Linked DNA regions of Homo sapiens: region 1 is linked to region 2. The links come from fine-mapping of genetic effects on gene expression. Tissue or cell type: monocytes. Region 2 holds a variant in brackets; the other region holds the start of a gene. All regions are shown on one strand. Distances are between the middles of the regions.

Region 1 (15,605 bases), 42 kb after region 2:
AGGGGATATTTGGGACAGGGGTAAGGAAACGTGAGACCAGACCACAGCAGGAAGAACCACAACCATATCTGTATTCACCACTTTGCAATGGGGCATAGGCCCTGGGCCTAGCATTCTACATGAATTATGTGTAAGTATTACATCAGCTCCAATCATTATTTTCAGTTAGATCTGAATACCGTACCCTTATTTCCCATTTATGCACAGGACACATACAAATATTTGACGGCACTTGTACATCAACTATGATTGTTAGCAGGATTTAAAAATGCTTAAATGTACATGCATTTTAATAATACTCCATTTATCTCTTAATCTTAAAGCTTTTAAAAAATCAAATCCTCGCCGGGCAAGGTGGCTCATGCCTGTAATCCCAGCACTTTGGGAGGCCGAGGTGGGCAGATAAACTGAGGTCAGGAGTTCAAGACCAGCCTGGCCAACATGGTAAAACCCCACCTCTACTGAAAACACAAAAATTAGCCAGGCATGGTGGCATGCGCCTGTAATCCCAGCTACTTGGGGGGCTGAGGCAGGAGAATCACTTGAACCCAGGAGGCGGAGGTTGCAATCAGCCGAGATCGTGCCATTGCACTCCAGCGTGGGCAAGAGTGAGATTCCGTCTCAAAAAAAAAAAAAAAAAAGTCAAATCCTCTTACAAAGGGCAACAGTGGAAAATGGGTAAACAAAGGCAAGGTAAACCTACCTGAATTAAAAATTAAATTGCACAGAACTACGGGGATGGCCACTGGACAGTATTTATAAGTAAGCCGTTTATTATTCATAGGGAGGAATTACTTCTATCATATATTGTAAGTTTTACTGCCAAGATGTCAAGAAGAGAATATTGGAGTTGTCACTACATGGCTGTATGAAGTCACCACCCTAAGTTTTCACCTTGTCCAGGCTCTCTCTCTCTCTCTGCCAGCTCTTTCATGCACTGGGCATGGTGTCTGAGGGGCTCCTGTGTATGGAGGATGCAGAGATAATAAAATGCAACTGCCCCCAAGCAGCGCCCTGCCTAGGGGGACAACAGACAGGTAAGAAAGCTAGGACACAGGCAGACCCAGGTGCAGGTTCCTCGGGTGTGTCTGAGAAGGCAGTGTGAACTGGGCCTGGAAGAGCAAGTGAGTCTGCTGAATTGAGTCTTAAGGACAAATGGGCCCCCCAGCCAGCCCTCCACAAAGGCTAGTGGGAAAAAGTTGCAGATGTTATGATCTGAGAAAGCATTTGGGGAAGGTCTTTTAACCAGCTGCTCCTGGTGATCAGCTATTCACACCCAATGCTTCCCTCTCAGCATCTGCGGCCACTCCCCACCGCACGGGTACCCCAAGGAGAATTTTCCGCCCCTGCTAGAATCCCAGTCCCTCTGACCCAACCCTGGCTCCCTCCTGCCCTGTCTCCACACCATCAAATACGGTCCAATTTCTTTTATCACCAACATTCTTCTGCGTGGCCTCCACTCTGTGCTATTTCTTCTATTATAGGAGTTTCTCCACTACCACAGTGACAGGGTTCCAGTCCTCCCGTTCATAAATCCTCCGCACATGATAGACTCAGAACTGTCCCGTCTGCTTTGAGCTCTCAACCCCCTCTCCCCCTACCCCCATCTTTCTCCTCCTTGACTTCAGGGCCCCGCAGGGCACTTGTTCTCCCATCCCAGCTGCTCCTCCACTGGCTCCCCCTTAGCCTTCCTGCCCCTTCTGGGGGTGATCCAGCAGTGTGATCCTGGCCCCTGCTCTTCACTCTAGGTTCCCATGTATGAGCTCTTCCACACTCACTGCCCAACTCTAAGGAAGTGAGCCCAGGACCGCCCTCTCTCAAACAGCCCTCCTCTGGCCAGCAGGACAGACCCTTCCCCAGACACCCCCCCAGGGCGAGCACCTCCTTGAATCCTGCACCCCAGGGGCCTCGTGTGCCTCTCCCCAGTCCCAGCCCCGCTCACCATGGCTGGCTCTGAAGTTGAATGACTTTTCCCTCCCACATGCTTACTGCCTCCAAGGAAAGCTCTCACATTTTAAAATAATTTTACTGGTAATTATGATGGAGAAAAAATAATCAGCTTATGTGCGCACCCAAGCTCAAGGACTCTTACAAAGTGTTCAGCTATGGTCCTTGGGCGGTAGGGTTTCTCTTTCCTTCATCTGGGTGGTCCCAGTAAGCCCCTCTGCTTTAATATCTGAGAACAGCTCATCACACCCACCCAGGGGGTCTGCCTGGCTTCATCCTGACCCCCTGACTTCCTGGAAGGAAGACTCTTTTCCTTTCTAGACCAGCAGAAGCAACCAAAGCCAAACAAGTATGTGGACCTCATCAGTGTAGGACACGTGCCCCTGGAGGAGGACAGACCTGTTGGGGGGAAGATGGGCTCCGCCTGCCTCTCCTAGCCCAGCACTTCCTCACCCTCTACGAGGCCTTAAGGAAAAACATTCCCTGCTCTGCAAGGGAGATCTCACCTCCTTGGGCTCAAATACACAGGGTCTGCCACGCCCTGCCCCAAACTGCACCCCCTCAGCTTTCTTCTTGAACAAATTCATCACCACATCCCTGGTGTTCAACGTGGATATACATTACAGTCACCCGGGAAGCTTTCCAAATCTACAGAGGTCTGGACCCACACCCAGACATTCTGATTCAACTGGGGATGGGCCTGGAACATGGATTGTTGTTTTTTTAAGCTCCCGGGTGATTTTAAAATGCAGCCTGAGTTTTGAAGCCTTCTACTCTTGCTGGCCAAATTCGGTTACTCAGTAGTACCCAAATCCTTTTTCAGTACTGCTCCTAGGCAGACATGGACCAAGCAGAAGTGAGGCCACAATTTCTTCCATTAAAGTGATGGGGGTGACGGAAGGGGAAGCAGGGGTGTCGTGTGGGTGGGCTCAGTGCAATGAATGGTGAGCAGGACCCAGCTCTTCTTGGCTCACACAGATTGTTAACTATTTAGTAATGTTCCCAGCCCAAACTGGCAGTTTGAAATCAGGCTGGGCATGGTGGCTTGCATCTGTAATCCCAGCACTTTGGGAGGCCAAGCTGGGCCGTTCACCTGAGGTCAGGAGTTCAAGACCAGCCTAGCCAACATGGGGAAGCCGGTCTCTACTAAAAATACAAAAACTTCTGGGCGTGGTGGCACATGCCTGTTGTCCCAGCTACTCAGGAGGCTGAGGTAGGAGAACAGCTTGAATCTGGGAGGTGGAGGTTGCAGTGAGCCGAGATTGCACCACTGCACTCCAGCCAGCCTGGGTGACAGAGTGAGACTCAAAAAAAAGAAAAAGAAATTAGCCATGGTGGGAATATTTACGTCACAGAAATTGGCAGATACTGCAATCGAAGCTCTGCTTTCTCCTCAGAGAGCAGGTTTACCGGCACACTATGAGCTCAGGGACCTCCTACATTGGAGGGGCTAGAAAAGCTTCCTGCCTGCTCATAAAAATGGGGCAAGGGCAGGGCAACATACCTCACACCTGTAAGCCCAGTGCTTTGGGAGACCAAGGCTGGAGGATCACTTGAAACCAGGAGTTCAAGACCAGCCTGGACAACATAGCGAAACCCCATTTCTACAAGAATTTAAAAAAAAAAACTACCCGGGCGTGCTGGTGTGCACCTGTAGTTCCAGCTACTCAGGAGGCTGAGGAAGAAGGATTGCTTGAGCCCAGGAGTTGAAGGCTGCAGTGAGCTATGATTGAGCCACTGCACTCCAGCCTGGGCAACAGAGAAATCTCAACTCAAAAAAAAAAAAAAAAGAGGCAGGGTTGTCCTCAGTTATGCAGATTTAATAAAAACTTGGAACCATAAAATCCTTTCAAAGGAAGTATTCTTCTCAATCTCTACAGAAGAGTTGGGCTAACAGGCTTCAGCAAAGAGAGCTCCCCTGAGATAAGCTTTTATTGCGCAGATAAGAATAATCTCATTAGTATGTCATTTATTTGATTGTAAAGAGGAAGGTGGAACCCTTATTGTACATTTACTTAACCGCCTTCCTATAATCTTAATCTCATTCTAGTGACCCCATGTGCCCAAACACCCTCTTTTCACGGGACAAGGAAAGACATCGTACCAAATCCTGGGTTATCCCAACTTCAAAGTCACAATCTTCCAAATAAACCTTGCTTCGCCCTGGTGACGGGGTGAGGGTTTCACGAACAAAGGTGCAAAATGGCTGCCTTCCATTTAGGCTGAGAAAGCGTCACATGTTTTAAAGATTTCATCACCTTCAGAGTACAAGCTATTTTCTAATTGTGTGAGGGAGGCTGGCACTCCGCTATTTGCATGCCTGTATCTTCAGGCTCCAATGTGTGACTGAGAGCCGTTTGTTTCTTTAATTTCAGCACCCCGGGAGATGTGATGACGAGCTCTGGACTTGGACAGATCCAGGTTCAAATCCCAACTCAAGCACTCATTAAAGTCTAAGGTTGGAGGAGTTTCTTAAATTCTCGTAGCTTCCCTGTAAAATGAAACCCCTGGTAGTTTTCGTGAGGATTCAAAAGGGCACACATGCAGCCTAGCATATGGTAAGCCCTCAACGAGTGGTACCTATTTCCATCCCTCAAAATACCCCAAACCTTAAATTAGAGGAATTCCATACAGCAATTCTACTTCCTCAAATCCATATGCTTCCTGATGACTTCAGGAGGCACTGTTCACCTGGAAGATGGGAGGCTGTGATGTTCTACATGGGATTTTACCCTTCTTAAAACACGGCACACAGCCTCTTTCTAAAGCATATTCTGCACTCCCTCGCCCTCTGAAGACTGATTATTGAGACTTTTTCCCTTTAGCGAGGTCACGGTGGGATCAGGTGCTGGGTTATGTAACACGTGGACGCCCTCAGGGCCCACCGAGGAGCTGGTTTCGGCTTCCTGGAGGATACTGAATCAAGTAGCTGGATTGTTCCCTGGGTATTTGGGGGCTAGATGAATTGTTTTTCTGTCACTGCTCCACAGGGTGGTGGCAGAATGTGAGGCTTCTTTCGTGCAAATAGCTGGGGAGCCCAGAGACCTAGCCCAGCTCCCCAGAAGCTGAGTGTAAACGTTGCTTGGCCTGAGGCTCGCTCCTGGCCAGGAGCAAAGCTGACCCGCGCACTGAGAGTGCTCTGAGAACTCTATTTAGTGATCGGTGACCTTTTCGGATTCCTGGTTGTCAGGCGGCTACCTCGCAACAGAGAAGACCTGATGCCCACCTCCAGGGCCTTGGGAAATGTCCCAGGGGCCTGAGTCCAATTTGCAGAAGAAAAATCACAACACAGCCCAATTTAGGTGTGCAATTTGAAAATAATAAAGCTAAGGGAAATCCACATGGCTGGCCAGTTGTAAACAGCAGCTCCTACTCGGTCAAAACAAGGCTGGTACCTGAAACGAGGCTGGAACTGGGAGGTCTGCCTGGAGCCAGGGTCCAGGGACGAGGTCTGCCAGGGCCGCACTCTGGAGCTCTCAACCTTGTTTGGGTCAAGGGCTCTGTAAGAAGCTCCCCAGGAAAAGAAAGCACACACACCTCCCACGCAATTTCAGGGGAGCCAGGGGCTCTTAACTGGCCAGGATCCCAGGATTTAAAACCAGGAACACCTCCCAGGATTCAAGGGCGTAAACCACATTCACCATTCGCATATCTTATGATCAGACTAGAATCCAGCATTAGAATAAGAAGAAAGTCTATTCAAGCAGCCCAGAGGGAAATAATTCCAGGCTGCCGGATTAGCAAACAAGAGCAAGGGAGAAAAGCCAGGAAGGTCCTCCCTCCACAGAGAAAAGTAAGAGCACAATACATGAACAGACAAGGCACCCGGTGAAGGATACTTTATCAGCATTTTTTTCAGCCCACTTTCTGGGTCTTTCCAAAACCCCCTCTTGAGCTGTGATCTGCAACTAGACAGACCCTGATCAGATCCACGTGCTGGTGGAAAGGACAATTTAAAAAATGAAACTATCAAACGACAGACGGTTACAGAAAGAGGATCTTCTACCCTGATTACTTTGTTGTTGTGGGGGTGGCATGGGTGCTTGGGGACAAAAGGCATGCTGTGAAGTACCTCTCCCCACCTGGGCCTTTGGTACCCAGAATTAACAAATGGCATGGGTTCTTATTTATTGTTTTATAAGATCACTAAAATGTAGTCTTGGGACAACAGGAAAAAAATAATAATAAAGCTCACAGAAGTGTCCTGGGCTTCTCCGCAGCCGGTCATTGTTCATTTAGTAAACAAGTGAGCCATACAAATCTCTAGGAAGCCAGGTTTGTTCAGTTTATGCGTCCTCCCAGAACTAACTGTTCTTTTGGATAAGCACGGCCCGGGCATTCCACAGACCCACAAACATCAGGCAGTGGGCAATCTGGGGTCCCGCCTAAATATCACTGCCCCCTTACTTTAAGAAATCCGCCTACAAGCAGAAAGCAGAGGTGGAGGAGGGGGATTGGAGAGCGCTGCCTCTTCCCAAGCTTCCCACTCTGAGGGATTTGGCCGAGTCCCGAGGGCACTGAGCAAGGAACCAGGAATATTGTCCTCAGGGCTCCACTGGACATTCCTGGAGTCTGTTTCCTGGGCAGGACGGCCAGGTGAGAGGCAGCCTATTACACTGCATGACCACTGCAATGAGGAACAGTAGAATGTTCCCCAGCGCCTTAAAGTACAGCCGCTGTCCATCCACGGATGTCAAAACGCTCTGCAAACCACCCATTAATTTTTATGGTGGCTTGAGAAGCAGATTGAGAATCATTACCTTCATTTTTACAAGGCAAGGAACCAAAACCACAGAGGGCGGTGAGGATCCAGGCCTCTCCCATCATTTCATCTGGGCCACGGATCTCAAGGAAAGCCCCCAGCCCACTGGGAAGGGGACTCGTGGCCAGCAGAGATTCTGCCCGGGTAGGGAGCAAGGAAAAAACCCAAACTTTGGAGCTCAGAGACGGTCACAAGGGTGAGAAGGGGCGGCTGCATTCAGGGATTCTCTGGTTTAGGCAAGAATGGCTCCAGTTCTAACTTAATGTTCAAATCTGCCAGGCTGTGACAAGGCTGGTAAAAAATGTGGGATTGGGGATGGTTTCCTGTTTGCTGTTTATATTTCTCTTTATCTCTAGCTTTCTGTCCTGAGCATACATTGTTTCTGTAATCAGAACAAAAGTTATGCGAACTTTATTATTATCACGGATAAATTCTATAGTTCCAATCTGCCTACTAACTTGGAAAGAATAAGCAGGAATACAATCTCGCACAGTGTTCTTTTTCAGATCTCATCGATCCATCAGGCTCCACGACCCTCTGCTCGCTGAGTCCGGCGGCTCTCCCGCGGCTCCTCCCGCGCGGCATCTCTGGGCGCCCGACACCCGGTCAGGGCCAGCTGGGCCTGTCCCCAACCCCCGTCTACACCGCAGGCCCCGGGCTAGGAGCCGCGGGACCCAGGGTTGGGGTCCCAACTGACACCCGCCCGTGCCGCGGAGCGGGCTTCTCGGTAAACATCGCTCAGAGAACAACGCGCCTCTATCCCAGCCGGTCCCCGCCCGCGGGCCGCCGGCGCTGTCACCTCGCGGCTGCTCGGTCACCCGATCGCCAAGCCAGAAACCGGAGTTTTCAATTTCATCCTCACAGGAGGGATCTCCGAAGAAGTTGAAATATGCATTGTCACCAACAAGTTTAACCGGAGACCGCGCGTCCTTCCCTCCTCCCCAGCGCCGCTCGAGGGGGGCGCCCCGACCCCTCCACGCCCTCCCGTGGCCCCCACGGCCCCCGTGAGCCGAGCGCGCCCCCCGATTTGCGCCCGAGGACGCGTCCGGTTGCCCAGGGAGGCCACCCCGCAGGGCCGCCCGCCGGGAAGTGGCCAGAGCCGGGGTTGGGGGGCGGCCCGAGCGCACGCGGAGGGCTGCGGCTCGGCGCCCGGAACCCCGGGCCGGGTCCCTGCCCACCAGCACCAGGGAGACCCGAGCGCCCGGGGGAGCGGCGAGGGGCGCGCGAGGCTTCCCCGAAGCCGCCCCACGCCCAGGCACCCGCGCAGCCCCGAACTCAGGCGGCGGTGGCACGATCGGCGCCCGCGGCACGATCTGCGCCCGCAAGGGAGTGCAAAGCCCCCGAGCACGACCCCGCGCCCCCGCCGGCCCCCAGGGCCCTGCCGCCCGAGGCGCTCCCCGCCGCCGCCTGCCTACCTGGCTCGCATGGCGTCCCCGCCGGCTCCTGAGGCTCCGCTCGTCGGCCAGCGGCTCGGCCCAGCCGGGGGCGCGCGCGGCTCCGCGGGACTCACGGCGGCGGCGGCGGCGGTAGTGGCGAGGGGCCCGGACCGCCGAGAGTGCCGGGCGCGCTGGGCCCCCGCCTCGGCGGGCGGAGGGTGGTCCCGCGCCTGGGCGGGGGCGGGGGCGGGGGCGGGGGCGGGGGCGCGGGGGGCGGGGCCAGGACCGGAGCTGAGGCCGCGGAGGGGGTGGTCCCGCGCCGGGGCGGGGCTTCGGGAGAGGGGCGGGGCGGGGCGCGGCCGTCTGAGGCTGGCGAGCGTGGGGCGGGCTGGGGGTGGTGCCGCGGCTCCGGGTCCAGGCGGGTATCCAGTCTGGGCGCCTCCTCTTCTTCCTCCGCCCGGAGCCGGCCAGGGTAGCGGGGCCTTGGCCGCCCGGCATCCTCGGGTCTGGGTCCCCGGTACCGAGCAGGTCTGGGTGCTGGCCCGCGCTCCTGTGCCCCCCCGCACCCCCATCTCCCACCCCTTCTCCGGGAACCCCTAGCGAGGACCCCTGGGGCGGTGCGGTCCCCCCGCGAGCGGGCGTGGGCGAGGGTCGCGCCGCGTTCGGAGACGCTTTACTACACCTTGGCTGAGGACAGTGGAGGGAAGGCAGGCGCGAGGCTGCGGGGGCCGGAGCGAAAGTTACAAACTAACAACAGGGAAGGCAGTCCGGCTGAAAATCATAAAAGGAGGAGAGTTTCCTGCGAAGCGGAATGCAGATTGAAGGGCTCTGGTCGGAATCGTTTACACTTTGTCTGACCTGGGCGCCTCTGGGCCCCCGGCGCGTAAAACAGGCCTGGCACGTAGTAGGCGCTCCATCAATGCCCAGTGAGTGAACGCACCACTTAACTATGTGGCCAGCAACGTCTATGGACCGACACATCTAATCCTAAAAAAAAAAAAAAATCCCAATTTTGGCTAGTCCATTTCACACGAGTAAACTAGAGCTCGGAGGGTTGGTTCGCCACAGAGGAGAAGGGTAGAACCAGAATCTGAACCGAGGCCGACTCCAGAGGCTGGGGTCTAACCACTGCGCCACTGCCTGGGGCCCTCGGGACTGCGCCCACCCCCACCCCGGGAACCCGGAGCCCAGGAGAAAGCGCGGGTCTTTGCCGGGGAAGAAGCCAACATTTGTTGCTCCTGGTCCTGAGCGAGACACACACAGTCAGTCCTCACCATTAACCCCGAGGCAGATATTGTTATTGTCCCCGTTTTTATAGGTGGCTTGAGACGTGCAGCACTATGTTATGATCGCATGGGGCGTGCCAGAGTCTGAATTCAAACCGGGTATGTTCAGACTCCCGAGCCCCTGCGGCTGCCCCTAAGGCCTGCCGCTCCTGCCGTCTGGGAGACCTTCCTTTCCCTAAGGAATCTGGTTTTCTGCCACTCCATTTGAAGTCTGTGTTGAAGTTTCAGGAGACACAGGTGGACAGAGGCACCGACCTAGGGCTCGGGAGAAGGGTGGACATTGCTGTTCCGATTTTGGTGTCATCTGTGTGTAGATCATGGAATTCCTGAAAATGGATACGAGTATCCCTAAAATACATGCCGCAGATTTTGAAAGGAGGCAGTGAGGCGAAGGGGCAGGTGGAGGAAGCAGAGAAGCCTCCGAGCAGAGGAGAGTTTCTGGGTGGCTAGGAGGTCTGATTGGTGTAGGGATGTGTCTGGAGTGTGCTTGAATCTCTGGCAAGTTATCTCGCCTCTCTGTGACTCAGTTTCCTAAATGAGTGTAAAAATGAAAGGCAGCATGTAAAGTGCTCAGCAGACTGCCTGGCACACAGTAGCTTTCAGTAAGTTTTAGCTACTATTAGTACTGCTATCCCAAATGACATCCACACTGTGTTTTTTAAAAAATGCCTATAAAAACATTGAAAAAGACAAGCCAGTAGAAAATGGACAAAAGCTATGAAGGTAATTCCTGAAATGCCACAAATGGCTCAAAGCATGAAAAGCTCCTTGACTATACTAGTGAGGGAGCTAAGGCAAAACATACACACACAAAAAACAATCGAATAAGAAAACTCAAGGCCTGTCCAGGCAGCTCAGTTCACTGAGCAGAGAGGGAGAAAGATACCCTAAAAACCACAAAGAACAAAGTGCCATGGAAACGCAGAATAGAACATGAATAAACAAAGCATTACAGATTTCGCCTGGGGAAGCAGAGAGTGTGTCTTACGATGTCCACATATGTATGCGCAGTACTTGCTATAGTCATGCCTCAAGCATCCTCAAACCAGTCCACATCCTAGAGAGGAATTAACAGAGGTCAGAATGTTTAAACAAAGTGGTTAAAAAAAAAAAGAAAAAAAAAACAAGAACACATTACCTTATATTCTTACTACAGTAACTGGAATTCTTCTTCAGCTCCTATGAGCCAGGGAGACAACATTACTGGTTTAGATGTAAGTTGTTTATGAACTGTTTTCTTTTTGTATCCTGGAAGGCAGAAAGGTCTCTAGATGTTGCTTCCTGTTGAATGTGTGCTTTTTTTCCACCAGTTTTTGTTACTTGCTCTTCTAAAGGCCTCTGGATCAAAAGAAAAAAAAATGAGCTATTCATTCATAACATTCAATTATTCAATAAGCCTTTCCAGTGGGAACACATACAGCAAAATCAATAACTTGGGTTTTTATTTTTTTTTAGTACAGAGATAACACATTTGTTTCAAAGGATTAAAATGATTAGAGAAATGTGTAGAGTAAAAAGTAAGCATCGATCCTAAGTTCCTACCCTTTCCCAGATTCCATAGTTCACAGTGAATTATACTCTACCAGAGGTTTTCCCCAAGCGTTTGCACGCGTTGGGTGCGTGCATGTGTAGATGATACATATGTGCGTGATGTGTGTGGGTATATATACGTGGACATGCATCTATGTATAAAGACAGTGTGGTAGGTTCTAAAATCAGGCTGCCCAGCTTTGAATGCCAGACCCACCACTCACCTGCTGGGTGACATAAAGCAGGGCCACTCAGTACCAGTGTTCTCACCTTGAAGTGGGTACAGTGCTCCCCAGGATTAATGGAGGTGCTGCATGGAGACTGCTTAATGTAGTGCTGGGCGCACGGCACATTGTTTACAAATATAAGCTGTTACTATTCGTGTTTACACACACATATACGTTATTCTTTGTTTCACATTAATAAGTTGAAGACAGTGAAATTTGGATGTCTCAAAAGGACTCCACTTGGCAAATCTCTCGGTGAGCGCTGGCTCCTCTGTGTTGGGGTGTACTCAGCGGCTCTGTTGTCTAGGAAAGTAAGATGCACACAGATGAGCAGGGAAAGATTGGGGTAGGTTTGACAGTCAATGTGCTGCATCTGTTACTAACACCAGCAACAGTTCAATCACACCAAGCACCACCAATTCATTCCAAGGACTTCTCAGAATAGATACAACACTCCCAGAAAAAGCAGCCCGGGCAAGAATAACTCCCAAGTAATATACACTATCCCAAACTCTACATAAGCTCTCTAATATGTTATAACATTCTGACCACCTATAAAATACACTTCATATTAGGAAATAACTACTCAGAAATTGCATGTGGCCCATAATGAAAATATCTCTCTATGGACAAAAACATTCTCAGCAATGAAATAAAAAGAATAATGTTCTTCTGGTGAAGTGAAATCATTAATGATCAAAATGCCCATGTCACAGGGAAAATAGAATACAAATGTACAAAACACAGCTAAAGGGCAAAGAAGAGCACAAGGCATAGGATATTTTTCAAATGGAATCTGTAAGAGTAGAAATTTAATCGTCAATGTGGGTGAATGGATTTTTAAATTAGTTGCCTCTGACTCAGAATGCAGAGAGAGGACCTGTTATCAAAATGCAAGCCTAGATACATACCCTCTGTTGGTGATAAAATTTGGATATTTGTTCCTTCAAAATCTCATGTTGAAATATGACTCCCAATGTTGGAGGTGGGACCTGGTGGGAGGTGTCTGGGTCATGGTGACAGACCCCTCATGGCTTGGTGCTGTCCCCCCAATAGTGACTGAGTACTGGGGAGATCTGGCCTTTGAAAGTATGTGGCACCTCCCCCTCTTTCTCTTGCTCCCACTTCGCTTTCCACCATAAGTAAAAGCTCCCTGAGGCCTCATCAGAAACTGAGCAGATGCCAGAGCCATGCTTGTACAGCCCACAGAACTGTGAGCCAAATATATCTCTTTTCTGTATAAATTACCCAGTCTCAGGTATTCCTTTATAGCAACACAAGAACAGCCTAATACAGTGGATTTAAGTTGAGGGAGAAAATGCTGCTTACATGATTCACAAGCCTACAGAATGACATTCATTTGTTCAAGAAATACTTATTGGACATCTGCTGCATGCCAGCCCCGAGCGTGGCCCCAGGGAGTGAGAGCCCTGGTGAGACAGAGGCAGCTGAGATTCCAGAGTGGACCCAGGCAGAAGGGGAACCACAAAGCCTACAGGTGGTGATAAGCATCCTAAAAGAAAGCACAGTGGGCTGTGAACTAGGATGAGGTGAGACCTGCTTTATGTGGGAGGGCTGGAGAAGGCCCTAGGGGAGGTGACATTGGACCCGAAGGGAAAGGAGTGGAGAGGGGCGTGCTGGGCAGAGGGAACAGCATGTGCAAAGACCCTGAGGCTTGAAAGCGCTTCACACCCTCAGGGAACTGAAATGACACCAGTGAGGCTGGAGAGAAAAGAATGAAGTGAATGGAAAGAGGGAAAGAGAGAGATTCCAAGGGGACCGTGTTGGGAAATGGGGGCTCATGGGGCATCTAGATGCTGCCCATCCTCTGTAACTTCCCCAGCAGCTTGGAGAACGTTACTTTGCCAAGAATTCAGTGAGACACTAGCTATAAGAGAGAGCAAGACTTCGGTTTTGCCAGAAAATGTTGGGTGATCTGTTTGCCATTCTGAGAAGCCTCTATCCTTCCAGTTCTAAAAAGCTGTGACAGGGAGCCCCACCACATGGCTGACTGTCCTTAATAAATGTATATGCACTGGGCCTGGGCACTGCGGCTCACGCCTGTAATCCCAGCACTTTGGGAGGCCAATGTGGGTGGATCATCTGAGGTCAGGAGTTTGAGACCAGTCTGGCCAACATAGTGAAACCTCATCTCTACTTAAAAAAAAAAAAAAAAAAATAGCAGGTGTGGTATCACATGCCTGTAGTTATAGCTACTCAGGAGGCTGAGGCAGAAGAATCGCTTGAACCTAGGAGGCGGAGGTTGCAGTGACCCGAGATCGAACCACTGCACTCCAACCTGGGCGACAGAGCAAGAATCTGTCTCAAGAAAAAAAAAATTCATATGCAGTGGGACATAACCCAGGCATCCCAGGAGCATACAGAATCCAGAAGGGATGCAGAGACAAAATGATCTGCTGAAAAGAGTTCTGTGGCTTTAAGGAAACTTCCAGAAATACTTCTAAACAAATATTCATTACCTTGCTCATTTACTCACTTATCCATTCAACAAATATGTGTGGAATGCTTACTGTGTGTCAGGCAGTGTGCTAGGAGCTGAGGATAGGAAGATAGGTATGTTCTAGATTCTTCTACTTAAGGAGTACACAGTTGCTATCATTCTATATAGTTAGTCTATAGAACGATAGTTGGATAAGTGTCAGGGTACACAGAGGAAGGCCACCTGGACCCATCCTGGATGTAGGTGGGCATGGGTATCCTCAGGGATGGATGATGAAGGGTGAATACGATTTGTTAGTAGGCTTAGAAACAGAGCTGGGGGGCCGGGCGCCGTGGCTCACGCCTGTAATCCCAGCACTTTGGGAGGCCGAGCGGGCAGATCACTTGAGGTCAGGAGTTTGGGACCAGCCTGGCCAACATGGTGAAGCCCTGTCTCTACTAAAAATACAAAAATTAGCTGGCTGTGGTGGCGTGTGCCTGTAATCCCAGCTACTTGGGAGGCTGAGGCAGGAGAATTGCTTGAACTGGGGAGGCAGAGGTTGCAGTGAACCAAGATCGCACCACTGTACTCCAGCCTGGGCGACAGAGCGAGACTCCGTCTCAGAAAAAAAAAAAGAGAAACAGAACTAGGGGACAGACATCCCAGGCAGAATCTGCAAGTGCAAAGTTTGGAGGTTTGAGGAAGTTCCAGGGAAGGAGCAAAGGGCTTTCTGTGTCTGGCAAGGAGAGTGGGATATTTCTGCGAGGCCAAGGAACACCAGGCCAGACATGCAGGTTACCTCAAATCCCAGAAAGTCCTGCAAAGCATAGAATCAAAACTGTACAAGGCCAGTTGTCTGCACGTTAATATTTCAATGTCAAACTATGAAAATTTAACAAAGGCATTTTGGTGAGTTTGGGAATGTAAAAAAGAGGTGACAGGTTTGCAATCCACAGCCAGTCTTGTGATTAAGAAATAGCACGAACAGCAGAACATTCTGCCCAGAGGGCTGAGATTTACTCACACTTGTTCCTCTGGTTCACACATGGCTTTTCCACATGGCCTGGGAGAAGTTGCTTTATTTCTTAAAAAAAAAAAAAAAAAAAAAAAAAAATCAGGGATGGGCGCGGTGGCTCATGCCTGTAATCCCAGCATTCTGGGAGGCCGAGGCGGGCGGATCACATGAGGTCAGGAGCTTGAGACAGACCTAGCCAACATGGCGAAACCCTGTCTCTACTAAAAAATGCAAAAATTAGATGGGTGTGGTGGCGAGCGCCTGTAATCCCAGCTACTCGGGAGACTGAGGCAGGAGAATTGCTTGAATCCTGGAGGCGGAGGTTGCAGTGAGCCGAGACGGCACCACTACACTCCAGGCTGGGCAACAGAGCAAGACCCTGTCAAAAATAAATAAATAAATAAATAAATAAATAAAAAAAAATCAGTAACTACTAGTCATGTCAACATGGATATCAATTGGATTTAAATAGGGATTTAAATTGGTGTTTTCCATTTACATCAAAAAAGGAGAAAGATCTCAAACAACTTAACATCATGCCTCAAGGAAATACAGAAAGAAGAATAAACTAAGCCCATTGTTAGTAGAAGGAAAAAAATAATAAAGATCAGAGGAGAAATAAATGAAAGAGACTAAAAAAAAAATACAAAAGATTAATAAAACCAAGAGTTGGTTTTTTGAAAAGATAAATGGCCAGGTATGGTGGCTTATGCCTATAATCTTAGCACTTAAGGAGGCCAAGGGGAGGTGAATCACTTGAGGCCAGGAGTTCGAGACCAGCCTGGCCAACATAGTAAAACCCTGTCTCTACTGAAAATACAAAAATTAGCCAGGTGTGGTGGCGTGTACCTGTAGTCCCAGATACTCGGGAGGCTGAGGCATGAGAATTGCTTGAACCTAGGAGGTGGAGGTTGCAGTGAGCCAAGATCTCATCACTGCTCTCCAGCTTGGGTGACAGAGCACGACTCTGTCTCAAAAAATAAAAAAAAAAATAAAGAAAGAAAAAGAAAAGATAAACAAAA
Region 2 (15,605 bases):
AGGTTGCAGTGAGGTGAGATTGCGCCACCGCACTCCAGCCTGGACAACAGAGTAAGACTCCATGTCAAAAAAAATAAAAAACAAAAAACAAAACACCTCACCCTCCTTTGAGAGCCAATTCATAATTCCTCTTCAAATGCAGCACTGAAATGTCCAGGCCGGAACACCAAGTTGCCCGAACGGTCCGTGAGAACTCATCTCTCCAGTCACCTGTACACAGGCTTCCCGGATGCGGCCTCTTGCCCTGGACTGTGGGTTTCTATTAACCTATCTAGGGGAGCACCTTCGACGTTCAGGCATTGTTCAGAATAAGACCAAATTCAATGAAAAACCTAAAGATAATTTTCAGAAGCCAGGTCTTCCCTGTTCTGTAAGCAAGCAAAGAGTATCTGTACTTAATGAAAAGCACAAGAAATAAAAGCTAAATAAAGGGAAGGAGAGTTTTACACTGGTTTCTGTCAAGTGTCATCTCCGTTTCAGCTGTGCACTCTGGCCAAGACATTGAGGCCCCATTAGGTCCCGCCTCGGCTTATCTTATCTCCAAGTGCGATAGGCTTGTCTTAGGCCTTCCTCCAGCTCAGAGGTTGTTAACGTTTTTTGAGGGTGCAAATCCTCTAAGGAATCTGACAAAGTCTCTGGACCCTCTCTTTAGAAAACTACCTCCACCCGTAAAGTTTAGCATGCAGTTTCAGGGGTTTCACAGACCCCCTCAAAGGGCCACGCCAAGGGCCCGGGAGCCCAGGATAAACACATCTGTTCTGTTACTGATAACAGCTACCTTCAGAAGACCAAGGCCGGGAAGAGCAGCAGATGCCCCAAGTCAAGCCAGAGCCTCTGTCAACACTGTTTATAATTAATTTCTCAAAAACTGGAGGCAGAGACGAGGTTGTACGTCCCAGCTCAGACACAAAAGTGGGCACCGTGTAAACGGGATTTATGGGCAATGATAAGGTAAGAAGGAAAAGAATCAAGTTGTGTTTACTGAGAGCAAAGTCCAGAGCTGCCTGGGGGAAGGAAAGAGGTCAGAACAAGGTGACGCCTGCCCACAAGCAGCTGGGGCGATGGGGAGACACCACCAGTGCAGAAAAAGGCAGAACCCACACAGAGGCTGCTGGCAGTGGGGACAGGCCCCAGTGTGTGGGGCACCAGATAGCGGGTAGGACCCGGCACAAGTCCCTGGCCTTTATGTCTCTGCTTTCTCTTCTGCCAAATGCGAGGCTGGGCTCTGTGATCTTTCAAGTCCCTCTGACCCTCCAACAGAGTGGAAAGGAGATTCAGAGCACACCACATGTGGGACTACAGGACCCACCTCTACGCAATGGGGACATGAACATCGCGGCTTGACGTCCTCCATGTCAGCGGCTCAGAGACAAAGCATCAGAGCCCGAGCCCAAGATCCAGGCTTCCCCTTCTGGCTAAGCCCCTCTTGGAAGGAGGGGCCCCGTGTTATTGACTCTGGCCAGTGGATCATGCTAATCCCTCCTCTGACCTTCATATCCCCTGGAACCAAAGGGCGGGGCCCAGATCAGGAGAGCAACCTGCATGGGAGAACGGCATGAATGAAACGTCAGGCACAGGGGCAACCCCCCAGTCACATCAATAACATGTTAACAGTGAAGCCACACAGCCCAGGCTCGGGGGCCCTCCATAAGCAGGTAGGAGAAGTGAGGCCCAGAGAGGCTACAGGACTTGCTTAACGTGATAGGGTTGTAGGGAGTTCCGAAAGGAAGGAAGAAGGGAAGGAGGGAGGGAGCCTGCAGAGAAGCCCAGCCGAGGATAAGTGAGTGCCACTTCCCCTATTGCCTGGGGTTCCCAGTGGCTGTCGCTGCCTGGCCCAGGCACACCCCCAGCCTGGAAACCCCTGTGGCCTCACCCCTCTCCAGATGGATCAGTGGTGGAGACCAGGTACAGGTGAATCAATCCACAGCGGACCCAGAGCTTGAGCTGGCCCAACCAGCTGCTTCTGAGACTTGGATGCTCAGAAACTCAAAAGCAGCCCAAGGGCAGGTCCTGCAAAGGGCTGCTGCGCATTGACTGGCAGCCACTCCTGGGCCAGGTATGTGCTGGTGGTGAGCAGCAGAGGCCGCGTGACAGAGCCAGCTGCACAGGTGAGAGGAAAGTCTAATTTTTGATGACCAATTCATTTCTCAAAGTTTGAGAAGATTCACTGTGCTCTCTTTCTGGATCATTCCAATAATCCTGCCCTGTTTTCTTCTTGAGCAAGTCTGAGGGTGTCTTAGATTCCTTTTTAGTCTTTGAGAACCTTCAGAGACCCAGGTTCCATCTTTACCAAGGAGAAAACTGAGGCCCAAGGAAATTGATTTATGTAACATGCTATTGTGCCAATAATTGAAATCTGTCTATGCTTGGTCAGAAGCTCTTTGCATAGGTATTTTTCTGACCCAAGAATGAAACGCATCCAGGTGCCCTTCCGAAATTGCAGTCTGCCCAGACAACTTTAAGGAATGAACTAACAACAGGGTGGGGGACAATTCCAAACACAGAGACAGGAAAATCAGGGCTTTTCTGATTTGATGGGAAGCTTCTTCAAAATGGGAGCAGATTTCAGCAAGAGATTCAAAGGCTCTTGAAATAAATAATAGCGGAATCTTTCTTTGACTGATGTCTTTTGTCCCCAAAGCCTCAAGTATGTTAAAAATCCCTCCTGTGAACTCACAACATGCTTGCTTTAAGAAAGGTGTAAGGCAGGCTAGTTATGACACCACAAAACAAGCCTCTCAAGAAGGCAGGCGCCGTTCTTAGTCCAATGTGTCGCCGGGAGTGCAGCTCACGTTTCTTTCTCCTCCGTCCAGATTCCCCAGCTTCCCTTCGGCAGCTGATGGCCTCACCAACGTGCATTTGCAGCGGTTTATTCACTGAGGCCCTGCGGACGTTGTCACTGGAATGCAGAGGCTTGGAGAGACGCTGAGCACAGCTTCCCGTTCAGCCGCTGCATGGCCTCAAGTGCCCTTCTCCTCTATTGGATTATCTGCTGATTACGGGGAGGTCAGGCCTTGGCAGGTGCAGAATCAGTGCCTGCAGGACACCTCAAAGGACAGTCCAAGCAGACCTGGTCATGCTATTAAGGACGCTGGCCTTAGTTTCTCTGTCCCAAGGATGTATGAAAGCCAGGATCTCTGTCACAGATCGAAGGCCATGGGGACATAGCCCAATGCAAACCTCAAAAGTAAACCAATTAGTGGTAGCCAGAGGCGGGGGCAGGGGCAACGGGTGTGGTCATGTAGTGAGTACAGGGTGCTCTTCCAGGGTGATGACGAAGTTTTGAAACGAGAGAGAGGCGGTGGTGACACAGGACCAAGAATGTACTCAATGCCCACTGCAGCGGTCAGCTGGAGGTTATGTGACTTTCACCTCGAAACCAAAACCAACAAACAAAAAGCTCACCAAACACACAAAGGGATAGGAACTTTGGAGAACCTCAGTCTGACGTGACCCCTGAAGACTTTCCACATGGTCCAGGCAGGAGGTGTGCAGGCAGAGCCTGCGTGGCCAGTCGCCCTGCGAAGAGTGGGTGACTCCGCTACCACCCATTTCTTCACTGCACCTTCAACTGTCGTGTGAATTTACAATCCCAAGAAAAAAAATTATGTTTACCTGTTCATTTTTACGTCTCCTGTTTGTGGCTCATGATTTATTCCCATTGGCCAGTCTAGAGGGGGTGTGGTACCAGCCCACGTGGTTCACGTGCCCCCCCAGGCACCCAGCTAAGCTAAAGGAACAGAGGAGTGGTTTAGGGGACACACAAATGCAGCCGGTCTGCAGGCTGGGCTCCGAGACTTTTTTATTTTTTATTTTTTTTTGGAGATGGAGTCTCGCTCTGTCGCCCAGGCTGGAGTGCAGTGGTGCAATCTCAGCTCACTGCAATCTCCGCCTCCTGGGTTCAGGTGATTCTCCTGCCTCAGCCTCCCAAGTAGCTGGGACTATAGGCGCCCACCACCACGCCCGGCTAATTTTTTTGTATTTTTAGTAGAGACAGGGTTTCACCGTGTTAGACAGGATGGTCTTGATCTCCTGATCTCGTGATCCGCCCACCTCGGCCTCCCAAAGTGCTGGGATTACAGGCATGAGCCACCGCACCCAGTCTTCTGATTCTTCTTAATCACCCTCTGAACTTGAACTTGAATGAAGTATTCTGGGTTTCTGAGTACTCTGAGATGAGTTTCTCATCTGTGAAACAGGCAGGGTGTTCCCAGGCCTTGAGCAGACACAACTACAGAGGGTGTTCAAGCCACCGGGGGCTGGAGCTCACCCTTCCCAGCCATCAGTGGGACAGTGGGAACAACCACAGGGGCAGGCCTTGTGGGGCCTCGATCTCCGCACCGGCTCCGTCCCCTAGCTGACACTCCCCGGAGGAGCAATCGGCCGTGCTCTGCTGCAGGCCTCCTGTTTCCTCAGTCATTCTGGTCTCAGGAACTGAGTCAGGGAGCATTTCTGCTGCCTCCTTCATCCTGAAGGACACCAGGCACCAGGATAAACTACCTCTGATGGTGATGACAGTGGGAGCAGGATCAGGTTAACAACTTGAACCCATGAGGTGGGAACTATGTGCAAATCACGAAATTTGCCACGGACAAAACTCGGGGCCTGGAAATGGAAACCCTGGGTAGCCGTGTCTCTCACTGACCCCCAGGCAAATCAGACTGTGACTATTCAGAGGCACCAAGAAAACACTACATGTATGCCTCTGGGAAAACAAGGCAAAACGAAAATCAGCTTAAAGTGTGGTGGCCTGTGGATGGTCTCTAACTGCTGTGGGGACCCACGCCCCCAAGCACCCCTACACCCCACCCAGAGGCACATGCAACGCTCTGCCCGCTGTATCCAGGGCAAGTCTGGGTGCACCTCCCTCACCGGGCTCCCGGAAGCCTGTGTGCCCGCCACGGAGACAAGCGGGCACCGCTGTGGGATGGCGGCACCCGTCCCACCCTCCCGTTCCTCTTCCCAGATGTCTTGCTGCCCCAGTAACTCTGGCACAGGGTCAGAAAAAGCAAACCACATGCGTGCCGCCCAAGGAACTGCTGGAGCCCGAGAGGGACCCCCATTAACCTCCTCCTGCTTTGCTCAGGATGGGGCCTGCTCTGGCGATGCCCCAAATGCAAAGTCCAGCGAGGCCAGTCCATGTGGGGGCCCAAAGAGAACCATGCCGCACAACCCCCTGGTGTCTCTCCAGTTTATCTACAGACAAGAACCAAGCTGCAGTGCTCGCCTTTGATTTTAGAAACCCCCGCTTTCTGACCAATGCCAGGCAGAAAGAATGCCAGGAATGTGGATGCCTTTCAGGAGGGTTCACCGCAGCCCAAAGAGACCACAGCCTCCAGGGCCAGGGGCTGCACTTATAAGGAAAGGCCTGCTGGTGGCCTCTGCCTGGGCTGAAGTGTTTCAAGTCGCTGAGGCCCCAGTGGGCGGAGGACTGACCCTGGGACCAGAGAACTCCTGAATTCCTCACGTCACTATGAAAAGCCCTGAGCCTCCTCCTGAACATCTCAAACCTTCTCTCCATCCTAAGGCACAGGCAGATACTGGAAAACAAAGAGACAGGACAGAAAGGGTGGGGGGAGAAGTTGAAATAAAATCCAATCAGCTACCCTCAGTTTACAGGATTTAAAGAAAAACCTGAAACAGTGCAAGTAGCTGCCTGCTTTATTTAGAAGGGCTTTTAAAATTCCAACGTGGCCCAGAAAGGAATCCCACTGTGAGCTGCGGCTTCTCAACTCCCCCTTTGGCCTTGAGCATCCAAACGTAGCGTTTACTTAGATCCAATCCTTTCTACTTGGTGGGGAAAGACTTGTATGTTGCTTTTCTAAAAAACTGGAGGCTGTGCCCGCCCTATGAGGTAGGTGATCCTATCCAACCGACTTTACAAAGGAGGGTGTTCCTTCTATTGCCAACCAGGAGTATAAAAGCCAAGAACAGCCAAGAAAACCTCCAGGAACATTTTACCAGAACACCATTTAATCCAGCTCTTCCTCACAAACACCAGCTGAGGCTTCCTTGGAACATTTTTTGCCAGCGTGTTTCAAGGACAAATGCTCCCCTGACGCCCCAGGGAGGGTGACCTCTAACCGCGGGTCCATCCCCATCTCGTCGCAGGGCGACGTGAGAACAATCCCTCCTTTGTGTACACACCACCCAACCTGGGCTCTGTCCCGCGGCTGCTGGGGTGGGGGAGCTGCTAGCCTGGCTTCTTGGAAGAGTGAGAACGTTCCACGGGTGGCAACAGAAAGTGGATTCGCTGAAAAGAGAAACACGGGGCTGTTCTGGGAATGCGCCGGGGCCGGGCTTCTGGATGCCAGGATGACAAATGACCTTCCCACACTGGGGACAACACTGTGGGCTTCGAGGACAGGAGGAGAGCGCCATGAGGGACAGGCCTGCAGTGCCTGAGAAAGGTCAAGTGTCACCAGAAGCTTCCAGAAGCATTCTCCCTCCTGCAGCTGCTCTGCACACGTTTGGGGCCTGTGTCCCCATGAGTCCGGCACCTTGGTCATGACATGGTAAAGCGGGTCCAGGTATGGCAACCCACTCACACCATGCCTGCACTGCCTACCTGGTACAGCCGCAGCCTCTCGCCATCAGAGAAGTCCCAGGACACGGCCTTCTGTCCAGGAGAGAAGGGAGACGCTGCAAGACAAGAAGGAAACACGAGTGAGCTTCAGTCCTGTCCAGCGCAGAACTCAGGCCTGCTTCCCGCCAGGGCCCCTTCACATCCTGGAGGACAGACGGGCTCTGCAGTGCATTTCCACAGCAGGTGAGGATGGTGGTGGACGCTGCCACGCGGCCCCCAGGTCCCCTTCTGAAGCCAACTCTGGAGAGTGGCCAGCGGAAGGACCTTCACCGGGGGCCACCCAGAACTGTCTCACTGGAAAGAGCCCTTTTGAGGCCACATCAGCCCCCTTCCTGGGCCAGCCTGCACCCAATGACCAGGCCAGTGACTAGCGCGGGGTAACAAAGCCTGCCCCTCACCCTACTCCTGAATCAGGGTGACTCGGCAGTC[T/C]GGCCCAGGCCAGAGCTCCTGTGGAGAAAGCGACAGGCTGCATGGAGGCTGCATCCCAGCCTCACTGTCCTCTTCCCCTGCTGCTGTGCTCCCCAGCAAACCTAAACGTCCTGCCCAGTGGCCTCTGCATCACGTTCCGCTTCACAGGGAGCCCTGCCTGTGACAATAGCTTATTGTGCCTTTTCTCACCCCAACAATGAGTCTCCCATCACCTGCCATTACTTCTGCTGCAATGACTGGCATTGTGAGCGCAACAGAAGCATCTTATCAGCTGCGCCCTGAAGATGAACCCCAGACACACCGCAGCAGTGGGGTCTCCTCCTCAAGTCACACGGCGCTGACATCACTACAGAGCCGGCGCCTTTGAGAGCAGAACCAGCCAACATCAATGCGACAGACGGAACTGCAGGTGCCACCACGACGCCCTCCCCCTCAGGCTGACTTCCTCCACAGGAATAACAGAGTGGGCCCCGGGGCCTTCAGAGGAATCCAGGACCTCATCAGACTGTGAAAGAAGGAGTGGGAACTTCCTTCTGGACACCTTCCCTCAATCATGGCCACTCATCCTCTGCAGGAACCAGACAGCCCAGAACAGACCTCCATCCATGTAAATATTTAACATGCAATTAAAAGGAGCGTCACAATCACCCAAGAAGGAAAGAATCATTCCCTGTGATGCTAGGACAACTGGCTGGTGTTCAGAGCACAGATCCCCCCTCTCAGGGCTTCAACTCACACCCAAAGACAAAATGAATTCCAGATCAATAGAAGGGTGTGGAGGGGAAGAGGGAGGGAGGAAAGGAAACCGCCCAATAGGTAATAGAAAATCTGGTTGTATAGTTGATCTCTACGTAGACACGGACCTTCTAAGGGTACAAGCGATGTGCAAAATCACACAGGCAAAATGAAAAGAATCAATGAACGCTACGAAAAAGGCCGCAACAATGTGACAAAATATATGCACAAACACAAAAGATCTGAAACCAGAGAAGACAAAAACAAAGGGTGGGAAGAGACAGGCGGGACTGCAGGTGCCACCACAGCTCCAACACAGCCACCTGCACCCAAGCTGATTTTCTGGACAGGAATCACAAGGCGGCCCCATTCTCGGCAGAGAAGGCAGGACGCCGCCATCCGTCCATCCCTCTCCTTTGAAATGGGTCTACCATGTTGCTCAGAGCTCTTCAGAATGTCTCTCAAAGTACTCGTTCTCCAAAGAGTCATGTCAAGACAGAACAGTTGAAAATCTCATCATCTTAAAAGACATAAAAGGGCACTGAAAAAAACCTGGGGGAAGTGAAACTACGAATGAGGCTGGCTTCATGGTATATGTCCCTGCCTTTTTCAGACTTCCGCAACTTCTCCCATTTCCTCTACCGTGAGCGTGCATTTCCCATTTTTTCTTTCTGATTCTAAAAGCCACTGCACCAGCATCTCTGAGAACCTAGTGCCTCTTCTTTCCTTTGTACCCCAAGCCCCTATGCCGTGGTCAGGGTTCTCAGAATCTCCATCCTGAATTCTAGGCAGGCACCGGCACTGCTGGGCCCCTTCATCAGGCGGGTCCATCGCAAGCCGTCATAAAGGACAGATGGGAACAGCCTCAGTGGGTATCCGCCTCCAGTGGCTGCAGTTACTACTGGGCCAGTGAGGAAATGAGGCGGGGGGCGAGTCCAGTGACACAGAACGGATCACCCCAAGAGAACGTGTGGCCCGAACATCAGCTCTGACGGGGGCTTCGAGAAACCGACCCCCGGGGCTCATCTCAGCCTCCTCACTCTGCCGGGGGCACTTCCTGAGACAAGCCCAAGGCAGGGACAACAAGCCCCACCGGGCGCTCCCCAGAAGGACCCAGCTCCCTTCACAGGAACTCCCCAGCCTCCCAGGCTGTGGGCAAGGCCTACTCCAAAGCCTGCCAGGTGCTGCCCAGACCCAGAGCCCACATGGCAGGAACACATCCATCTCCAGGTGCTGCCCAGACCCAGAGCCACATGGCAGGAATGTGTCCATCTCCAGGGGCTCCAGACCCAGAGCCACGTGGCAGGAACGCGTCCATCTCCTGGTGCTGCCCAGACCCAGAGCCACACGGCAGGAACGTGTCCATCTCTAGGGGCTCCTGATGCAGAGCCACACGGCAGGAATGTGTCCATCTCCAGGTGCTGCCCAGACCCAGAGCCACATGGCAGGAATGCATCCATCTCCAGGTGCTGCCCAGACCCAGAGCCACGCAGCAGGAATGCGTCCATCTCCAGGGTCTCCAGACCCAGAGCCACGCAGCAGGAATGCGTCCATCTCCAGGGGCTCCAGACCCAGAGCCACACGGCAGGAATGCGTCCATCTCCAGGTGCTGCCCAGACCCAGAGACACGCAGCAGGAACGTGTCCATCTCCAGGGGCTCCAGACCTAGAGCCACACAGCAGGAATGCATCCATCTCCAGGGGCTCCAGACCCAGAGCTACATGGCAGGAACGCATCCATCTCCAGGGGCCCACAATGCCTTCCTCCTTGTGACACTCCTCCCCCAGCTCACTTCACTCCACTTGGTCATGGGGGCTACTGAGGCCATGGAGCTGCCTGGAGAGCCGCCCTCCAGCCACCCCGAAGAAAACGACCTGCATGTGGTCCAGGGCCTCAGCCTCGCCATCCTCGCTGCTGCCCAGCCCTCCCCAGGCTGCCCAGCTCCTGCCCCCCAAGGCACAAAATAAATCTTCGCTGGAAACTCCAGATGCCACCTCGCCCCAACTCCAAAAAGCTGCTGTGCTCCTTTCTCTATTTAAAGAGAGGCTGCGCTGACAACACCCTCCGTCACTGTGGCTTTCAGCACTGATTATTTTCACATTTTTGGATAAGGGCCCTGCAAGCCCTCTGGAGCTTTCCTTCTGGCAGGTTCTTTAGGCAGCGTCTTTACTTAACAGCCTTGTGGTCCTGAAGCTGAGCCCGGCAGGCTCCCTGGACAGGGGGATGATTGGGTAAACTCATACCTCATGCCTAAGTATGGGGGGACCCAGCTGCCCTGACAGGGGGCTCAGAGACGCCAGAACTGGACCCTGGGCAGGGACAGGTGCACATGTGGCACCACTAGCCCCTCAGTGCTGGAGTGGAGGGAGGAGAGAATCTGGCTTGTCATGTCCGGGAGGTCCCAGTGGATGGATTCAGTGGACAAGACCGCTGGCCCCTTTCCACTTCCCCAACTCCTGATCAACCTCTCCAGAGGCCCAAGGCCTCTGGACAAGGACCGCCTTGCTGAGAAGAGGGGGGTACGATCTTTCAGTCAAGCACTGTTCTCCTGTGGGCACCACCAGACACCAGTGTGGACCCGTCAGTCTTCAGGGGCCCCAAGAAAACCACACGGTTTAGCGTGGGTGGATGGAATTAGCAGAAAGTCTAGAGGATGCCTTATTCTCCAGTTGTTTCAAGAAACATCAGTGTTGTCATTAACCATGATTTGGGGCAAATCTCCAAAAACCACAATGCCAAGAAGACAAGATTCTGTTGTCTTCAGCAGCTCAAAACACAAGTGTCTTCTCCCACGGTGCAGAGAGAAGGGCAGTTATGTCACTCTGTCCATCTGAGTAGCTGTTTTAACAATGGTTGACAGTCTCAGCTGATGACAAATCTGCAGAGAGTTGATCCCACCTCAGAGGGTCTGGGAGGGTGAGTGGATAAATGATATGAGGCTCATGGTCCTCACCCTACCACATCCAAACAGGAAGCTATATTCACACACAGAGATGACCACTGTGTCCTAAATCCTCATTCCAGGACAGTCACCAAGACAGCTATTCACCCCATTTCCCAATGGTATAGATGGAATTGCATCCCCCCAAATTTGTATGCATCACCAGTACCTCAGAAAGTGACCTTATTTGGAGACAGAGTGTTCAAGGTGCAATCAAGCTAAAGTGAGATTACCAGGGTGGGCCCCAGTCCAATATGACCCAGTGACTTTATAAAAGGGGGGAGTTTCAACAGACATGCACACAGAGAGGGACAGGTGACAGGATGACTAAGATGGGGGGTGAGGCTTCTACAAGCCAACAGCTACCTGCAAACCCCCAGATGCTAAGGGAGAAAGGGCTGGAACTGATTCTCCCTCAGCCTCAGAAGGAACCAGCCCTGCTGACACTCATCTTGGACTTCCAGCCTCCTGACCTGTAAGACAATCCTTTTCCACTGTGCAAACCACCCAGCAGTTTGTGGTTCATTGACAACAGCCCCGTCAAAGTAATTCTCACGGCTCTGCCCATCTCAGAGGTTGCTGAGGGAGTGACAGATCTGAAAATGCTCCGTGAACTCTTCACCCAACTCAACCTACAGGCTGGCCTGTGCTGACCACACCAAGAGCTGGTCCACGCTGCAGAGCTGAGTCTTTCAGGGCCAGACCCGCATGAGTTCCCAGGGAATATGCAGGAACACACAAAACTAATTTTGTTCCAACAACTTCAGGTATGGGCCCAAAAGTCCAACCCACTTAGTTATGGGACACATTCTTGAAGGGTTGAGGTGAAGCAATGTTAGGCTGGTGTTGAGTAAACTGGAAAACGTGTAAGCCTATTTCTTAGATTTTTTAAGCCTCCACAGTGGACATCAATGGAGCCATCGGCCAGAAGAGCCTCTACAGCCTGCATCCCCGACAGCTGGATGACTGGGGTCGCTCCAGCCTCACCCACCACCATACATCAGAGCCAGTCAGTAGAACCAAACTACAAAGTAGAACTAAATACACGCTGAGTACCATTTATCCAAAATCCCTGGGACGAGAAGTGCTTTGGATTTCAGATTTTGGAACATCTGCACATACACAATGAGATATCTTGCAGATGGGACCCCAGTCTAAACACTAAATTCATTTATGTTTCATCCGTACCTTATACACATAGTCCAAAGGTGATTTTATACAACATTTTACATAATTTTGTTCTGGAGTTTTGACTGCAACCTGTCATGTGAGATTAGGTGAGAAATTTTCCACTTGTGGCATCACGTTGGTGCTGAAAAAGTTTCAGAGTTTGCAGCATTTTGGATTTCAAATTTTTGGATGAGGGGTGTTCACCCTGAAAATTCTTGTCCAACCCAGAGGCAAACTACAGCCCGCGGGCCAAATCCAACCTGGCCACCTATCTTTGTATGGCCCATGAACAAAGAACGTCTTTCTATTTTTAAACAGTTGGGGGGAAAATAAAAAGAGTAATATTTCACGACGTGAAAATGATAAGAAATTTAAGTCGCAGTGTCCTTACCTAAGTTGCACAGAGCCCAGCCCCACCAGTTTATCAATAGCTCTTCTGTGCAACCAAAACAGTGGAGCTGTGACACAGACCTTATGGCCCACAAGGTGGAAAATAGTTACTCTCTGGCTTTTTACAGAGAAAAGTGTGCCAAGCCCTGTTCTCTACCCTTCCTACTTACGCAGTGGGCAAAGGGCCAGGCGGGATGTAGGCTCAGGCCAAACGGAAGTGGGCATTCACCCGGGTACATGGCTGCATGCCAGGAGTGTTTGCCAAGAGACCAGCTAGGGTAGGAGATGGCAAGAGGGAAGGAAAGAAAAGCAGACGTAGGTGTGGTCAGAAAGGGAGACGGGAACGGGCCCAACATCCATTTCAAGGTTTCTTTCTAGAGCTGGCTCCAACCTCAAAAAGAGGGGAGGCATCTCTGGCCCCGCTCTGGCAGCACAGTGACGCCATCCTCCTACAGCTTCGGGTTCGCACAATCAGTCCTCATGCACGGCACGTCCAAGACTACACAGAGACTTCATGGCCTGGCCATGGACCCAACCCCAGGTTTTTCATTCTCTATGAGGGCAGATCATTCCACTCCGAGACAACCAATTTACAGAACTGAGAAAGCGACACTCTGATAGATGGACAAAAGCCTTTCTACTTCATGCTATCAAAATCAACACTATTAAAACTTACACACTGACAACGTATTTGGGCAACAGATGGATGAAGCAGCCAAGTGAGAGGGCCTGAAATCTCACCTGATGGATGTTACATTTTCTTATGCAGAACACAGAACTGCTTCACTTACCCTTCCTGTAATTACATAAAATTTCCAATTTTACAGAGAATGTGATACGGAATGGGATATAACCTTCCTCTCTCCTGTGTTAAACCTAGAATGAATACTAAGCATAAAAATGGAGGAGGGGCGTTGAGACAACCACCCACCCAGCACCCGCAACGGCTTTGTTCACCTGTTCATGCGTCCCCCCTACACACCGTGAGCTCCTCCTGGCACCCGCGCAGCACCGAGTGGCTGCCTTCTCTGAACGCCCTCCCTCCCTGGCAGGGCGGTGGAGGAGGCGGAGGCCCCCTGCCTTTGAGTGTGAAGACGGGAGGACAATGAGACACAGGGCCCACTACACCTGTGTGGCCGGAAGACTACTTTCTCATTCCCCTTTGGGCTCTGCTCCCCTGGCTGGAGCTGGGGTCCTTGTTGTGGAAATTTTACATATTTAATTACTACATAAACTGATGGCCAGGGGTGAGACAAGGGCAGCTCCCTTGGCAATTCAAGTGAAATGTTTCAGAAAGACTCGCTAAAGGTGAATCACTTAAAAACGTGGCTGGCGGGCCGGGTGTGGTGGCTCACGCCTGTAATCCCAGCACTTTGGGAGGCCAAGGTGGGCAGATCATGAGGTCAGGAGATCAAGACTATCCTGGCTAACACGGTGAAACCCTGTCTCTACTAAAAATACAAAAAATTAGCCAGGCGTGGTGGTGGGCGCCCATAGTCCCAGCTACTTGGGAGGCTGAGGCAGGAGAATTGCTTGAACCCGGGAGGCGAAGGATGCAGTGAGGCGGGATTACACCACCGCACTCCAGCCTGGGCGACAGAGTGAGACTCTGACTCAAAGAAAAAAAAATGTGGCTGGCAAGCTAAATGACATTAAACACCTGAGGAAAATGCAGTCAACTCTAGGAGAACTCTGGGCATGGATGGCTTCACCAGTGTCCCTGTGTCATGGCGCCATCTTGGACTGGAAATCAATGATGTCATCATGCATGTGGGTTACACAGGAGACACCATGGCCAAACCCACACTCAGAAAAGACCTGCACCCAACAGAAAGACTGGAAGACCCATGCACACTCGGCTTTTCCTTGTATTTTTAATGATTCTTCTAGACTTTGACTTTTTCAACTCACTGCCCAATCACTTCTGGAGCCTCACAAGATCTAGTTCATCATTCTGGACTCTACTGTGGCTGTGGGGGGTGAAGGTTTTAATCCAAGGTTTCGAAAATCACCACCTAAAAGCAAGCCAAGGAGAGTGTCTCAAGGAAGGCGTCCTAGGCTTTGATTCTGACCTCGGAACTCTCTCGCATGAATAAGTGGGGGGACACCATGAGCCGCCCATGTTGGGGGGAGGCGGCCTGGGGAATGAAGGGTCTGGAGATTGTCATAAGTCAAACATGTGGGTTCACGTTTCTCACACCAGCTCCACGACCTTTGCTAAATGACTCATCTTTCCTGGGCCTCGTTTTCCTCAACTGTAACATGGGGCTCTAACGTACATCAAGTTCATGTGGGTTTCTCTTGCTTTAATTTTTCTTCCAGCCTGTAGACCATGTTGAGGGCAGGGACCCTGTCTTTTTTTTTTTTCTTTGAAATATACCAGACACTGAGTGCCAAATACATAGTAGAAATTGCATACAACACCCGTGAAATTCTGTGACTAAGGCAGTAGTTCTCAAACGCCAGCATTCACTGGAATTACCTGGAGGGCTGATTACAACACAGGTTGCTGGGCCCAACAACGCTCAGTTTCTGATTCTGTAGGTCTGGGGTGGGCCTGAGAATGTGCATTTCTAACATGCTCCCAGCTGATGTTGATGCTGCCTCTGAAAACCATTAGCAGGCCGGGCGGGGTGGCTCATGCCTGTAATCCAAGCAATTTGGGAGGCCAAGACGGGTGGATCCCTTGAGGTCAGGAGTTAGAGACCAGCCTGACCAACATGGTGAAACCTCATCTCTACTAAATACAAAAAATTAGCCGGGCATGGAGGCACATGCCTGTAATCCCAGCTACTTGGGGGGCTGAGGTTGCAGCAAGCCAAGATTGAGCCATTGCACTCCAGCCTGGACAACAAGAGTGAAACTTCATCAAAAAAAAAAAAAATAAAATCATTAGCATAATGTATCCTAGTTGATAACATACTTTCCCATCTGGCCTCTCGGTCGCTTTTCACAACCCTATGAGGTAGGCCAGACAGGTATCATCATGCCATCATTTAGCAGATAAGAGAACTGAGGCTGACCAGGTTTCAAAGACTCACCCGAGATCAGGAAGTGAAAAGCTGGGATCCTAACCCAAAGCCACCAGCCATGATATGCAGAGTAACGACAAACACAAACAGAACAATCCCAAGACCACACAGGCTGCAGTAAGACAGGACGTGGACAAGTGAGGGTGTAAGATTCCAGACCAGGCTCCAATCCTGCATTTCCTTTTCCCATGGCAGGTTATAAAATCACAAGTCTTTGAAAGTAGAAGTTAACATTCCTGCCTGAATCAGACTACGAATGTTTGTGACGGAGTCTTGAAAGAGTTTTGTCCCCCTAATAAACCTTTAGGAGGCTGAAAATATC

Which allele goes with the higher level. Positions count from the first base shown, and alleles are read on the strand shown. Sizes are in standard deviations (SD) of each study's normalised expression.
With allele T in place of C in region 2, the expression in monocytes of the gene that starts at base 8,278 in region 1 is higher (moderate effect, 0.65 SD a copy in Quach 2016).

Evidence for each region. PIP is the estimated chance that this variant, and not a neighbour inherited with it, causes the effect.
Region 1: SH3BP4 starts here. The variant in region 2 is fine-mapped to the expression of SH3BP4 in monocytes (Quach 2016, PIP 0.95). The same link has a PIP of 0.9 or more in monocytes after LPS and monocytes after Pam3CSK4.

Annotation. Positions count from the first base shown.
Region 1 is chr2:234,944,690-234,960,294 of GRCh38, reverse strand. SH3BP4 (SH3 domain binding protein 4) reads right to left here and starts at 8,278. Exons shown (of 6, transcript NM_014521.3): 1 at 8,125-8,278. It overlaps LOC105373938 (a long non-coding RNA gene), which reads right to left. Exons shown (of 7, transcript XR_007088132.1): 2 at 14,593-14,652; 3 at 11,172-11,431; 4 at 10,510-10,709; 5 at 10,360-10,428; 6 at 8,944-9,697; 7 at 8,496-8,856. RefSeq lists an enhancer at 7,176-7,825.
Region 2 is chr2:234,986,340-235,001,944 of GRCh38, reverse strand. SH3BP4 (SH3 domain binding protein 4) reads right to left here. Exons shown (of 6, transcript NM_014521.3): 2 at 6,569-6,642. Among named protein-coding and RNA genes, the nearest start is that of SH3BP4, 42 kb to the right of the region's middle. RefSeq lists enhancers at 1,745-2,421, 2,537-3,166, 9,929-10,700 and silencers at 4,266-4,560, 5,186-5,480. The variant T/C (reference allele first, on the strand shown) is at 7,016.